2 linked regions of the Homo sapiens genome follow. The protein of the gene in region 2 interacts with the protein of the main gene of each other region in a pairwise test. Each region holds a gene or a part of one and is shown on either strand. Other genes may lie near its edges.

Region 1 (7,487 bases), on a different chromosome or scaffold from region 2:
ATTTAAGGGCCCACTCTATCCCAGCAGGACCTCATTTCAACTTAACAGTGGCAAAGATCCCACTTCCAACAAAGTCACATTCTAAGGTTCTGGAAAGGACACGCTTCTTTGGAGGACATTATGTAACCCAGGACAAGTACCATGCAAGGGAAATTTGTGTGTGTGGAGTATGGCGCCTAAACCATCAAGACAGGAAGGCAGGAACAGCAGAACGGCAATGGGAGGGAGGGAAGGAAGTGGAGGGTGGTAAATTTTGCTTGCTTTGCAGCTTTTCACAGGGCCCCGAGAGTGCTTTTAGCACTAAGGATGTACAGTCACGCACCGAATAATGGTTTGGTCAATGGCATACATGACTGTGATCCCATTGTAAGATTATAATGCTGTATCTTTACTGAACCTTTTCTATGTTTAAATATGTTTAGATACACAAATACCATTGGGTTACCATTTGCTTACATAATTCAGTACAGTAGCATGCAGTACAGGTCTGTAGCCTAGAAGCAACAGGCTATACCCTATTATTCTAGGTGTGTAGTAGGCTACCTCTAGGTTTGTGTAAATACAGTCTATCATGTTAGCACAAGGACGAAATCACCTAGTAATGCTTGTCTCAGAACATAGCACTTTCGTTAAGTGAGGTATGACTGTACTTGAATCACCAGGACTAGGATGGAAGGCTGCACACTGTAACCCACCCAGCTTCCACCCAGTTTTCTCAAGTCTAGACTTCTCTTTTTCCCCTTTTAGATGAAGGGAAGAGGTTTAATATTAGAAATCAAACAAGACTCAAAATTGGGAAATGTCAAAACTTTGTCACTTTGGGCAAATCATTTGATCTCTCAGTCTGTTTCCTCCTCCTTAAAATGAGGATGTTGGACTGTTTTCATGTCTGTAAAAAGAGGATGTTGAGGATGATCATTAAGGGTGCTTCTGGCTCTATAAGCTATTGCTCTAGGAGGAAGCAGTGGAACTGTGCTCCCCTGTCACTGTTAAGAGGATAGATTTTCAATATGACCAGTGGCTATCCCCATTTTTTAACAAGCATATCTATCAGACAGCATTTGTAACGGTAAACAACAGAAATTGGTTATCTTGAGCAAAACAGGGATTTATTAGAAGGCTTTGGGGACTGGCACCAGGATCAATTTGGTGCAGGTACCTTATTACAGTAGATGTGATCCCATCCTCTTCCAGGAGCTTTCCATGATTATATCACTTGCACAACAGTAAGCATCTGGACAAGAGTTTCTTTTCTTTTCTTTTCTTTTCTTTCTTTTCTGGTTTCTTTTCCTTTCTTGCTTGCTTGCTTGCTTGTTTATTGAGATAGAGTTTCGCACTGTTGCTCAGAATGGAGTGCAGTAGCATGATAGTGGCTCACTGCAACCTCTGCCTCCTGGGCTCAAGCAATCCTCCAGCCTCAGCCTCCTGAACAGCTGGAACTATAGGCATGCGCCATCACGCCCAGCTAATTGTTGTATTTTTAGTAGAGACAGGGTTTTGCCACGTTGCCCAGGCTGGTCTCAAATTCCCTGGCTCAAGTAATCCACTGGCTTTGGCCTCCCAAAGTGCTGGGATTACAGGTGTGAGCCACTGCGCCCAGCCTGGTTCTTTTTGTAGACAGAGTCTTGCTCTATTGCCCAGGCTGGAGTGTAGTGGCATGTTCATAGCTCACTGCAACCTGGAACTCTTGGGCTTAAGTGATCCTCCCACCTCCATGCCACTACGCCCTGCTAATATTTTAATTTTTTGTAGAGATGACATCTGGCCATGTTGCCCAGGCTGGTCTCGAATCGCTGGCCTCAAGTGAACCTCCCGCCTTGGCCTCCCAAAGTGCTGGGATTACAGGTGTAAGCCTCCCTGTCTGGCCTAGGCAAGAGTTTAAGTAGGTGAGTCATGGGCACATATCTTAGCTGTGCTGGGTGTTGTTAGGGCAAAGATAAGATTTCCTCCAAACGGAGAGTGAGTGCTGATGGAAAAAAGGGTTCATTGGCAGACAGCCAAGAAGATATCACATGTTTATGGCCAAGAAGTGTTTGGAATTCAGCCATGCATGGAGATTTTAATAGTATATCTAGACACTAATATCTCTACCCTGAAGTTGTTGCTATGTTATTGTTATCACTATGTAGTGGTAAAGGGCTCATATTCTGAAATCACAGAGGCCTAAGCCTGAATTCCAACTCTGCCCCACAGTAGCTGTGACTTTGGGAGAGTAAATTACTACTATCACACTGCAAGTCTCAGTTTCCTCATCAGAAATATGGCGGTGATGTTAATACTGACCTTATAGGATTGATATGAAAATTGAAGGATATGACATATTCAAAAGAGCTGAATGCAAGGCCGGACTCATGAAGTTTTATTACCTAGATTAGGCCCCTAGGGGTTTTTGTGCATTATTTCATGTAATCTTACAACTATTTGACATAATTAATATCGAGCCCCCTCACTCACCCTTTACAAAAGTAGAAACTGAGGTTCCAACTGAGAAACTTGTTTGAGGTCACACAGCTGTATGACCTGTCAAAACTGTGCTTCTGCACCAGCTCTGCCAGACTCAGAACCCCAGGGTCTTAACCATACATTTAAGTGTCTCCTAAAAGAGTCAACACTTCCCCATCCTGCACAGCCCCATTGCTGCGTGAAAGGCTCACTAACCCCCTGCTGCACAGCTCCTACTGGTTGTCATTTTAGAAAATATAGGGAGACACTGGAACTCCGAGGCAGTAGGATTGAAACGTTTGCTTCTTTTCTTTTTTTTTTTTTTGAGACGGCATCTAGCTCTGTCACCCAGGCTGGAGTGCAGTGGTGCGATCTCGGCTTACTGCAACCTCCGCCTCCCGGGTTCAAACGATTCTCCTGCCTCAGCCTCCTGAGTAGCTGGGATTACAGGCAGCTGCCACCACGCCCAGCTACTTTTTGTATTTTTAGTAGAGATGGGGTTTCACTGTGTTGGCCAGGCAGGTCTCGATCTCCTGATCTTGTGATCCGCCCGCCTCGGCCTCCCAAAGTGCTGGGATTACAGGCATGAGCCACCGTTAATTACTGTTTGTTGTGTTTCCCACTAACTTCTCTGACAATTCTATTTCAACCTACATTCTCCAATCACTGTAATTAGATATTTGAGAATTGTGTTGCATTTCAATCACGGTAACAATAATGGTAGTATTTTATTAATAAATTCAAGTAAAAACTGAAGATGACAATGATAGTGTATGATACATGACATCAACTTTGCATCACCTAAAGATCCAACTTTTCTGTTATGAATCTAGATTTCTTGGGGAAATCCAGATTGTATATTGGACATAGGAATTAAGATTACTGGACTTGAACTTTTTTGTAACTAACAACTTTATTGAGATATAATTCGGGTACCAACTCATACCTGAACAGCTTTTTAGACTTTTTTTCTAGCCCTTTTTTCTCTGTCCTTTCGGTTTTCTTTTAAAAAGGTCCATACTATTCAAGAAACACAACTTTTAAAGTCCACAATAATTCTCATTAGATTTTAATATTTATCTCCCCCCAAGCTTTACTGAAATACTAATGATATTCATTTTTTTAACCACTTTTCATCGTAAGAGAAATACAAATTTTCCTATTGATTCTTATGCACAAAAATCAAGTTTTTGTGGTACTGCTATACATTAGTAGTATGTTCAGCCAGTTTCCAAAGAAATTAGTCAAGATCCCAACATGCAACTTGTATACCACACTACCTTGGAATTCGGCGGCACAAACAACTATTCCTTGTACAAAACCTCCCTGAAAACGACTAAATGGAAAAGTGGATGGCTTGAAACAAGGAATGTTTGGTTTTTTAAAAAGCATTTTTCACAATTTAGTCGAGGTGTGGGGAGGGTTTCCCCACTTGTGGCTCTGCACAGCGTGCGCGCGCGTCTGTCCTGGGGTCCCCTCCCTGCGGGGACGAGGCCGGGGTCCCCGCGCGAGCCCAGCGGACCTGGGCAGTGCGGGGGTCCGACCGCCCGCCACAGGGGGACAGGGACCGCAGCCGCCAAATCCGCGGGGCCGGGGAACGAGGAGACTTTCCTTTCCGCGTTAGCCGGGGCCACCCCCGCCAGAGGGAAAGCACCAAAGGAAAAACCAGGACAGGGACTCTGGGGGCCGGAGGAGCGGCCTCCTGCAGGCACCAGCGGAGGGGCGCGGGGGTGGGGGAAGGGATCAGGGCTCCGCGCTCCGTCCGCCCCACGACCCCGGCCCGGCGCCCCTCCCCTCGGAACCCCCACTTAGTGCCCGGCCCCCGCCCCGCCCCGCGCGGCCCCCGGCCTCAGCCCCGCGCGCCCCGACGCCCCGCCTGCGCCGCGGGCCCGAGTAGTGGACGGGGGGCGGCCCGCTCGGCTCCTCCGCACCCGCTCCCCGCTCGGGCCGAGGCGCCGCGGCCGCGCGCCCCTCCTGGAGGAGGAGGAGGAAGGAGGCGGGAGGAGGAGTTGCCGAGAGGAGAAGGCGAGCGCGGCAGTCGCGCCGGCGCTGGGCGAGGAAGCGGAGCCGGGCCGCCTCCGGGTAAGCGTCCGGGGAGCTCGGGCGGGAGGCAGGGGCAGGGCTTCGCCGTCCGCCTCCGGGTCGCCCGCGGTCCGGGACACGGCTGGTTTTCGCCTCGGAGTGCAGGGGGCGGATCCGGCGCGGGCCGGGCCAGGGAGGCCGCCGGGCGCGGGGCTGCAGCGACGGGTCTGGGTCAGCGCGAGGCCCTGCGCCGTCTCGGCGGGTGCGCGGGCGGGGGCCAGGGCCGGGGAACGGGGGCCGGGGCCAGTCCCGGGAGCGGGGACGCGGAAACCGGGAAGCCGGGGCCGGGGCGCGGCGGCCCCTGAAGGGCCGAGGCCTGCGCGGCCGCGGACGGCTCTTCTCGACCCCTCGGCCTCTTCGGCCGCGGCGCGCCGGCCTGGGCCGCCGCCTTTGTTGCCCGCAGCTCGCCGGGGAGAGGCCGGGGCTCCGCGAGGCCTGGGCAGCGGCGCGGGGCCTGCGCGGCTCTGCGCCCCGGCCGGGTCCCTCCTCGGACCTCCGCGGGCTCGGGCTCGGGCTCGGGGTCGGGGCGCGGCGAGGCCGCAGGCGCGAGGGCGGGCCTGGGGCGCGGCGCTGGGACTCGGGGACGCCCCCGCCCCACCGCGAGGTCGCGCCGGCGCTGGTGGAGGTGCAGGCCGGGGCTGCTCTGCGGCTGAAGGTGCCGCCGGCCGGCTGCGCACTCACCCGGGTGTAGGGACCGGACGATTGTGGAATTTAAACCGCTCCTGGGACCGACACGGGCCTGAATTTTCAGTTTGCTTCGGGAGTTGGCAACTTCAGGTACACCCTTGTGGCTCACGGAGCAGAATTATGGACGTTTCTCAGGGGCAGATCCTGGCACAAAACTTGGGATATGTGCAGTAGTGTGTGTGCCAACTTAACGTTCAGTTGGAATGTGAAATTGGGGTTCCCATCCCCACTGTTTGGAATGAAGGGCCAGGTGGGAATATGTGGCGGGACTCAGTCTTCCGGTAGCAAAATAAATAATGTTGAATTCATTTCAACAAATGTTTCTGCAACGTCTGCCCGGATAAGGCAGCATGCACTGTGCATGAGGACAGAGAACACAGTAATGACAGAAATAACGTGAATTACACACTGAACGTCTCCCAGAGACATTTTAAATTTACTGTGTTCCTTGGGATAAAGATACATTTGGAATCAAACAAAAGTAAACGTTCTACTTCAAGATAAAATATCTGACATCTTCTCAACCACTGAAGGTAGCAATTTATCTTGACTTGTTTTTAACCAACTACCACAACATTAAATCCATTTAGCTTACTTGAATGAACGAATCTTAATTGTAATATTTAATGCTGTGGACAGCCTTACTTAAAAACACGAATGGCATTGCTCACCAGGTTTCACAAAAACCGGAAAAAAAGTCTGTAATACTTTTCCGTGGGCTTTCTAATTTCTCCTCCTAGTGGGTTTTGTGCACGCGTGGATATGGTAAGGTCTAGGATCCATTCAGCTCTAAATTAAATATGTGGCCTTAACCCTTTGGTTCAAACACCCTCCCTAAGCCTGCCTTGGTGCCTTGGAGGAACCTGGTTCGTGGACAGTGGATTTGATAAGGATTCCTAGAAGAACTTCTATCTGGAGTTTGGCCAGGGCTTTCCGCTTGTGCCTGGGTAAGGGTCAGCCAGGTATTCACCCGAATCTATACTTTTTTAGAACTCCATTCAGCATCTCTTTTGAAACACTGTTTCTCTCTTACCTTTATCGTTATCTTCTAAATTACCCTCTAAATTGGTAGTCTTGCCCCTTTCTCTTCAGCAGGGCCTCCCACCCAAGCGCACACCCTCGGGTCATCCCATGACCCCCTCTCTTGGTGGGCCCCCCACCCCGCAGGGAGTGGCAGGGAAGGAATTTGAGAGCCATTGACTGGGCGTAGGGTGGAAAATGGTGCTGTACTGACTGGGTTTCTAGTCATTTTGCCTTCCAGTGTTTTTCTTCATTCTTGCATTAGAACTGGAAAAGGTGTTCTTTTAATGGCCCCCCTTTTTTTAGGAAACAGAAAGCAAGTATCTTCTTTTTTGTTTTTCCTCTGTCACCCAGGGTGGAGTGCAGTGGTGCAATCATGGCTCACTGCAGCCTTGAACTCCTGGGCTCAAGTGATCCACCTCCCTCAGCCTCCTGAGTAGCTTGGACCACAGACATGTGCCACCACACCTGGCTGATTGTTTTTTGGAGAGGTGGGGTCTTGCTGTGTTGCCGAGGCTGGTCTCAAACTCTAGGCCTCAAGATCCTCTCACCTCAGCCTCCCAAAGCCCTGGGATTACAGGCACGAACCACCACACCCAGCCTGCAAGTGTCCTCTTAAGCCTTCTTGTGTAACTACACTCCTTAGAGAAAAATCTTGCTAGTTTTCTCCATTATGGCCAGTTTTCAGGAAACTTTTGGGTTATTGATCATATCTTTTATTTTGCTCATAGAGGTGTGATCTTATTTAAAAGTCCAAACATATAGATGGTCCCCAATTTTGGACTTTTTGACTTTTTGATGGAGCAAAAACGATACACATTTAGTATGCACTTCGACTTACATCCAGATAAACCCACTGTGAGTTTTGACTTTAAGATATTTTCAATTTATCATGGGCTTATTGGGACTCAATTATTGTTATTCTCTTAAAAATATGCACTCGTGACCTCTTCCAATTCTGGAAATTATATTTACATCTGTGGTGCCGAAGTACTTTTGTAAAATTATTCATTTTACAAGGGAGAAATTCCAAATACTAGTATATGTCATAAAAAGGAGAAACTTTCTTATATGGCTAGATTGATAGAAATAATTGTTCAGCTGTTAAAAGAGGAACAACGTAAGATGTGTTTGATATTGTTTTGAAGTGAAATTGTCATTAATGTTTTTATGGGTAATTTATTATGCTGTTTGGCGTGTTGGTTTAGCTAATAAGTCGTGATGGCTTTAGGGCTGAGGACACAGTTTACTTAAAC
Region 2 (7,020 bases):
AACAGCTGTGCTCCAAGTGGGTAGGTTTATGTCCAGCATCTCATATTCCACTAGGTCTTCAATACATGCTCAGTCTGGAGGCAAGGAAGTGACACAGGTTCTTGGAAAATGTGTTGTGGCTTATGCTACTAGGTCTCATGGCCCAGAGATTGTGTGGGATGTATCTGCCTGCATAGCTAATCACATATTACTGTGTTTGAAAGATATAAACTTGAACATTTTAATCTTTCTCTGTCTTGGCCTTACTTGGCTAATTTTTGTTAAACTAAGTCATAAATATATTCTACATCTACTCAAGGTTCACTTCATTCAGTAGATACCATGGGAATAACTAAAGTTTACCGAAGGCTTACCAGGTGACAGGCACTATCCTGATCACTTACCCTGCATTATCACAACTGTATATGACCCTTATATTCTCTCTTTTTTTGTTGTTTTCTTGAGACGGAGTCTTTCTCTGTAGCCCAGGCTGGAGTGCAGTGGCACATACTTGGCTCACCACAACCTCCGCCTTCCAGGTTCAAGTGATTCTCCTGCCTCAGCCTCCTGAGTAGCTGGGACTACAGGCATGTGCCACCATGCCCAGCTAATTTTTGTATTTTTAGTAGAGACAGGGTTTCACTGTGTTGGCCAGGCTGGTCTCAAACTCCTGACCTCGTGATCTGCCCGCCTTGGGCTCCCAAAGTGCTGGGATTACAGGATTGAGCCAACCGCGCCTAGCCATGACCCTTATATTCTATGAATAAATCAAGGTACAAGGTAAACCTAGTAAATCGTAGAGCCATAATTTAGGCCCAGATCTGTCCTAATCATACCTCCCTGGAATATTCATGGTGGGGCTTCAGAGAAACTACATGGAAAATGTGATGTGTGTGTGTACGCACATGCCTGCATTTCAAGACATTATTGACACCAAAGGTTAAGAATCACTAATGCAGTGGTTCTTTCATTTTAAATCCGGCAGCCCCCAGGATCACAGCAGATTCAGAAGACTCCTTGTAATTGTTCTTTATCCTTGTGTCCCACTTTATGAAATTCTTTCCCTGGGTATTTGCCTGAGGGCCTTTTCTAGCCACAAAGTACTGTTGGCCTCCACAAAAGAAAATTTCAAAATATGGAAGCCTAGCCCGACGAATATTGGAGTGTCTTTTTTTTCTGTTTTAAGTTTCAGTGTCATCAGATGTATCATGACCCTACAGATTTTGCACGTTCTGGCATTTGTGCATTCTTGTGTGCATATCTGACTGGGAGATCCGATGAGACTCCCGGAAGTGGGTCTCAATCCTGCCTTAGGTCTGAGCTAAGGAGTCCTTCTCAGAGCACCTCACCATGCCCTTTGAGAGTCATAGCTCTGTGTTTGACATCTTGGGAGTTGGTAAACAAGATGTTTAAACAAGGTATTTAACATACATATCATAGCTCACTGCAGCCTCAAACCCCTGGGATGAAGTGATCCTTCTGCCTTAGCCTCCCAAGTAACTGAAACTACAGATGCCCAGCTAATTTTTTTAAATTTGTTGTAGGGGCCAAGTGTGGTGGCTCACACCTGTGACCCCAGCTTTAGGACCCCTGTGACTTTAGGAGACTGAGGCGGGTGGATCACCTAAGGTCAGGAGTTCCAAGACTAGCCTGGCCAACATGGTGAAATCATGTCTCTACTAAAGATACAAAAATTAGCCAGGAATAGTGGCAGGAGCCTGTAATCTCAGCTAGTCAGGAGGCTGAGGCAGGAAAATCACTTGAACCAGGGAGGCAGAGGCTGCAGTGAGCCAAGATCATGCCATTGCACTCCAGCCTGGGTGACAAGAGCGAAACTCCATTTCAGAAAAAAAATTGTAGAGACAGGGTCTTCCTATGTTGCCTAGGTTGGTTGGTCTCAAACTCCTGGTCTAAAGCAATCCTTTTTTTAAAAAACAGGGTCTCTCTCAGTTGTCCACGTTGCAGTACAGTGATGCGAACACAGCTCACTGCAGCCTTGACCTCCAGAGCTCAGGCAAATCCTCCTGCCTTAGACTCTCTAGTAGCTGGGACTACAGACACATAGCACTACACCTGGCTAATTTTTTCATTTTTTGTAGAGATGGGATCTCACCATATTGCCCAGGCTGGTTTCAAACTCCTGGGCTCAAGCAGTCCTCCCATCTCAACCTTCCATAGTGCTAGGATTACAAGCATGAATCACTGCACTCGGCCTACAGAAATATTTTATTTGTGCGTGTTAGAGCATGTCTTACAAAGGCTTAAGTTGAAGAGACATTCATGCAGTATTTCAGTATAACTCTGGGTAGGTAAAGGTTCCACAAGCCTTGAGAGATAACTTTACCTATTTGAAAAGCTCTAGGCCGGGCACAGTGGCCCACGCCTGTAATCCCAGCACTTTGGGAGGCTGAGGCGGGCAGATCTCGAGGTCAAGAGATCAAGACTATCCTGGCCAACATGGTGAAACCCCATCTCTACTAAAAATACAAAAATTAGACTGGGCGCGGTGGCTCACGCCTGTAATCCCAGCACTTTGGGAGGCCGAGGTGGGTGGATCACGAGGTCAGGAGATCGAGACCATCCTGGCTAACACGGTGAAACCCCGTCTCTACTAAAAATACAAAAAATTAGCCGGGCATGGTGGCGGGCACCTGTAGTCCCAACTACTCGGGAGGTTGAGTCAGGAGAATGGCATGAACCCGGGAGGCAGAGCTTGCAGTGAACCGAGATCACGCCACTACACTCCAGCCTGGCGACAGAGCAAGACTCTGTCTCAAAAAAAAAAAAAAAAAGAAAAAAGCTCTAATTCATGATTTGTTGGCTTGGATAAAAGGAAAATTTTGAACATGGGACCCTGACTTAATGAATATTTGAATGTTTTTCTTTTCCAATTTTAAGTTTCAAGTGTCGTCAGATGTATCACGCACCCACAGACTGTGCCACAATCCGGAAATGGCTCACGAAGTGTGCAGACGACTCTGAAACAGCCAACTACATTAGTGCTCACACTAAAGACGTAAGGACCGTATTTTACCTCTCATGGATTTGCCCTCCTTAGTGCTGCCCAGGGCCTTGCCTTGGAGATTTGCCATCTGAGAGCAGAATACCCAGAGCCCCAGGACCCTTCCTGAGGACTGGGGGTTTGGGGACCCTCACACAGAGTTGGCAGCTCGTAGCAGTTTATTATAGGATGCATTGGGTGCATATTTTCTTTATTATGATGAAATGCCAAAATGCCAGGAAAGGGGGACCCAAAGGGGGAGCTAATTAGAAGAGAACTAATTATGATTGAACGCCTACCAGCCTTTAACAGCCCTGAAAGGGAGGTGGTTAATAGCCACACTTGATACATATAAGGCTGTAATGCAAGCCCAGACCTGCACGATACTCATTTTGAAGTCTCCCATGGGAAAGTATGGCCTGTGGGCTCTAGGGGCCACTGTACCCTTTGTCAGTCACTCGCCGAGTCAGTGCACTCACAAGCACAGTTACGATAACGACATTATTAAACATAGTCGACTTCACGGCAGTGGGAGATCACAGCATCAGACTGGTGTCTTCATTGCTGCCTCAGGTTGCTGGCATCTCTCAAATGGGAGAGATGAGCTTTAGATGTGGTTTCCTTGCCCTCTTCTCGAAGCAGAAGTTCAGGCAAGCTGACCAGGACTGAATCCATTGTGGCAGCTCCTGTGCTTCTTTGGCAGTCCTCTCAAGAAGGCAGGCTTTCTGCTGATTCAACTTGTGCTTAATCTGAGTAGCTTCATGGCAGGGGCAGATGGTGGAAGACTTAGTGGGGTTCAGCTGGTGCTTGAAGCATTTCAAAGCTAAATGTGCTGACCTCATTTCCTTGAATTGCTGTTCCAGCCTCAGCGACCTGCCACATTTAAGTGAGGTGCTCCTCCCCAGAAGTGCTCACACCATGAGCAACTGGGCACAGGTGCCAGGAGCTTTGTGTAATTTGTCTTAAAACCAACCTGGTGGTGTGTGAGCCTAATGGCACCCTTCTGTCTCCTCAGTGTCCCAAGTGCAACATCTGCATTGAGAAGAATGGAGGCTGCAATCACATGGTGAGCAGAAGCCTCTGCAGTTTGCATGTGTGACATGGAAGCTTTGGTCAGTGTGCCCTTAACGTGTTTTCTTCTGTTTCCCTCTGACAGCAATGCTCCAAATGTAAACACGGTGAGTTCCAAGCTTGGTGTGTAAGGCCCAGTGGCACTTTCTTGTGGTTGGGTCTCCGTTACTATTTAAGTGAGTACTTCTGCCATGAAATGACAAAACATAGAAGAACCTCAGTCACTTAACAGTCACAGTAACTGGCATAAAGTAGCTTTTTATTTTTATTTTCTGTTTTTTGGTCCCTCTTATAATCCCACTGCTATCTTGCTAACACATATAGTCAGAAGTCAAGTTTGGGATAAACCTCATGATCCTCAGTTATCCAAGAAGATGATTTCAGGGTGTTGCTTTCATTTTTTTGCCAAGGCAGGTAAGTAGCTTGGGGCTTATCTGTGCTACGTTGTAGATACCTTTACCAGAAGTAGTAAAATAATGGTTTTCCCTTGCCGTTTTACAAAGTTTCTAGTGGGGGTTTTGATTTAGCCTTTCAGACCTCCTTCATCCATCAGGAATAATTTACATAGCTAGAACCCATGTATGCCATCCGGCCAGGTCAACTGAAGAAACAGAATCCCTTCAAGTAGAAAATATGTCCAAGTGGGTCTTCTACGCAGCTGCTTTGATGCTCAACAGGAGCCCCTGACAGTTTCTTTTTTTTTTTTTTGGGAGAAGGAGTCTCACTCTGTCACCCAGGCTGGAGTGCAGTGGCGCAGTCTTGGCTCACTGCAACCTCCATCTCCTGGGTTCAAGCAGTTCTCCTGCCTCAGCCTTCCAAATAGCTGGGATTACAGGCATCTTCCACCACGTCTGGCTAATTTCTGTATTTTTAGTAGAGATGGGGGTTTGCCATGTTCGAGGCTGGTCTCGAACTCCTGACCTCAGGTGATCTCCCTACCTTGGCCTCCCAAAGTGCTGGGATTACAGGAGTGAGCCACTGTGCCCGACCGAGAATTTTGCTTTGTAAGGGCCTATGCAAATGCTATTTCCAGGAACCCTCTTTTCTTTATTTTTTGAGACAGAGTCTCAGTCTGTCGCCCAGGCTGGAGTGCAGTGGTGTGATCTTGGCTGACTGCAACCTCCACCTCCTGGGTTTAAGCAGTTCTCCCACTTCAGCCTCCTGAGTAGCTGGGATTACAGGCACTCACCACCACACCTGGCTACTTTTTTATATTTTTAGTAGAGACGGGGTCTAACCATGTTAGCCAGGCTGGTGTCCAACTCTTGACCTCAGGTGATCCGCCTACCTTGGCCTCTTAAAGTGCTGGGATTATAGGCATGAGCCACCGAGCCTGTACTTTTTTTTTTTTTTTTCCAAAGATGGAGTTCTGCTCTTGTCGCTCAGGCTGGAATGCAATGGTGTGATCTTGGCTCAATGCAACATCTACCTCCTGGGTTCAAGCGATTCTCACTCCGCCTCCCCAGTAGCTGCTATTACAGGCGCCCACCACCACACCTGGATAATTTTTATATTCTTAGTATAGATGCGGTTTCACCATGTTGGCCAGGCTGGTCTCGAACTTCTGACCCCAGGCAATCCGCCTGCCTCGACCTCCCAAAGTGCTGGGATTACAGGTGTGAGCCACCGCTCCCGGCCCCAGGAGCCCTCTCAATCAGAGTGGTCATGCCAGGATCTTAGACAGCAACATTGACTCTGCAGTGCCAAACGAAGATAGGCCATGGGTAGTGGCATATTTCTTCTGTGGGGCCACATTCTTTCGCTCTCTTTTTCTTTGTATATATCAGAGAGAGAAGTGTATCATACACTTAGAACAATGCAGAAGACACAGAGTTTAAAGAATAATGACAAACATCCCAGCACCCACCACATTCCTAGTGCCTAAGAAGCCCCCTGGGTGTCCATATCCCTTGACACCCAGAGTTCACTGCCATCTCACGAGAATCACTTGAACCCCGGAGGTGGAGGTCACAGTGAGCCGAGATTGTGCCACTGAACTCCAGCCTGGGCGATAGAGCGAGACTCTGTCTCAAAAAAAAAAAAACTGGCTGGGCGCGGTGGCTCACGCCTGTAATCCCAGCACTTTGGGAGGCCGAGGTGGGCGGATCATGAGGTCAGGAGATCGAGACCATCCTGGCTAACATGGTGAAACCCCATCTCTACTAAAAAAAAATACAAAATTAGCCAGGCGCAATGGCGCACTCCTGTAGTCCCAGCTATTCGGGAGGCTGAGGCAGGAGAATCGCTTGAACCAGGGAGGTGTAGGTTGCAGTGAGCCAGGATCGCACCACTGCACTCCAGCCTGGGCAACAGAGTGAGACTCCGTCTCAAAAACAAACAAACAAACAAAAAACTGCCATCTCTTTCTTTGCTGTATGTTTTATACCACCTATATGGGCAACCGTAGGGAATGTGGTTTTTTGTTTTGTTTTGTTTCGTTTTTTGAGATGGAGTCTCACTCTGTCACCCAGGCTGACAGGCTGAGTGCAGTGGTGCGATCTCGGCTCACTGCAACCTCCACCTCCCAGGTTCAAGCAATTATCCTTGCTCGGCCTCCTGAGTAGCTGGAACTGCAGGCACATGCCACCATACCCAGCTAATTTTTGACAGAGTCTCACTCTGTCGCCTGGGCTAGAGTGCAGTGGTGCGATCTCGGCTCACTGCAACCTCCGCCTCCTGGGTTCAAGCGATTCTCCTGCCTCAGCCTCCCAAGTAGCTGAGATTACAGGCGTCCGCCACTATACCCAGCTAATTTTTTGTATTTTTGGTAGAGACGGGGTTTCACCTTGTTGGCCATGCTGGTTGTGAACTCCTGATCTCATGATTAGCCCACCTTGGCCTCCCAAAGTGCTTGGATTACAGGCGTGAGGCACCGTGCCCGGCCTGTATTGTTCTTTAAAATGGTAGCAAGCACACCTAGCTAATTAAGGAGAGGGCATTGTTGCCACTATTAGGTGAAGGCTCCCAGG

What was found.
Region 1: the proteins of ARIH2 (region 2) and SOCS6 interact in binary tests that used the Homo sapiens proteins (3 or more experiments, as listed by UniProt).

The regions. Positions count from the first base shown.
Region 1 is NC_000018.10:70,284,567-70,292,053, forward strand, and holds the start of SOCS6 (suppressor of cytokine signaling 6), read left to right. Parts: upstream 1-4,478; 5' UTR 4,479-4,524; exon of another isoform or gene 4,525-4,726; intron 4,727-5,101; exon of another isoform or gene 5,102-5,301; intron 5,302-5,330; exon of another isoform or gene 5,331-6,158; intron 6,159-6,174; exon of another isoform or gene 6,175-7,487. UniProt on the Homo sapiens protein: SOCS family proteins form part of a classical negative feedback system that regulates cytokine signal transduction.
Region 2 is NC_000003.12:48,970,822-48,977,841, forward strand, and holds part of ARIH2 (E3 ubiquitin-protein ligase ARIH2), read left to right. Parts: exon of another isoform or gene 1-20; intron 21-2,877; coding exon 2,878-2,995; intron 2,996-3,843; exon of another isoform or gene 3,844-3,995; coding exon 3,996-4,046; intron 4,047-4,136; coding exon 4,137-4,158; coding exon of another isoform or gene 4,159-4,227; intron 4,228-7,020.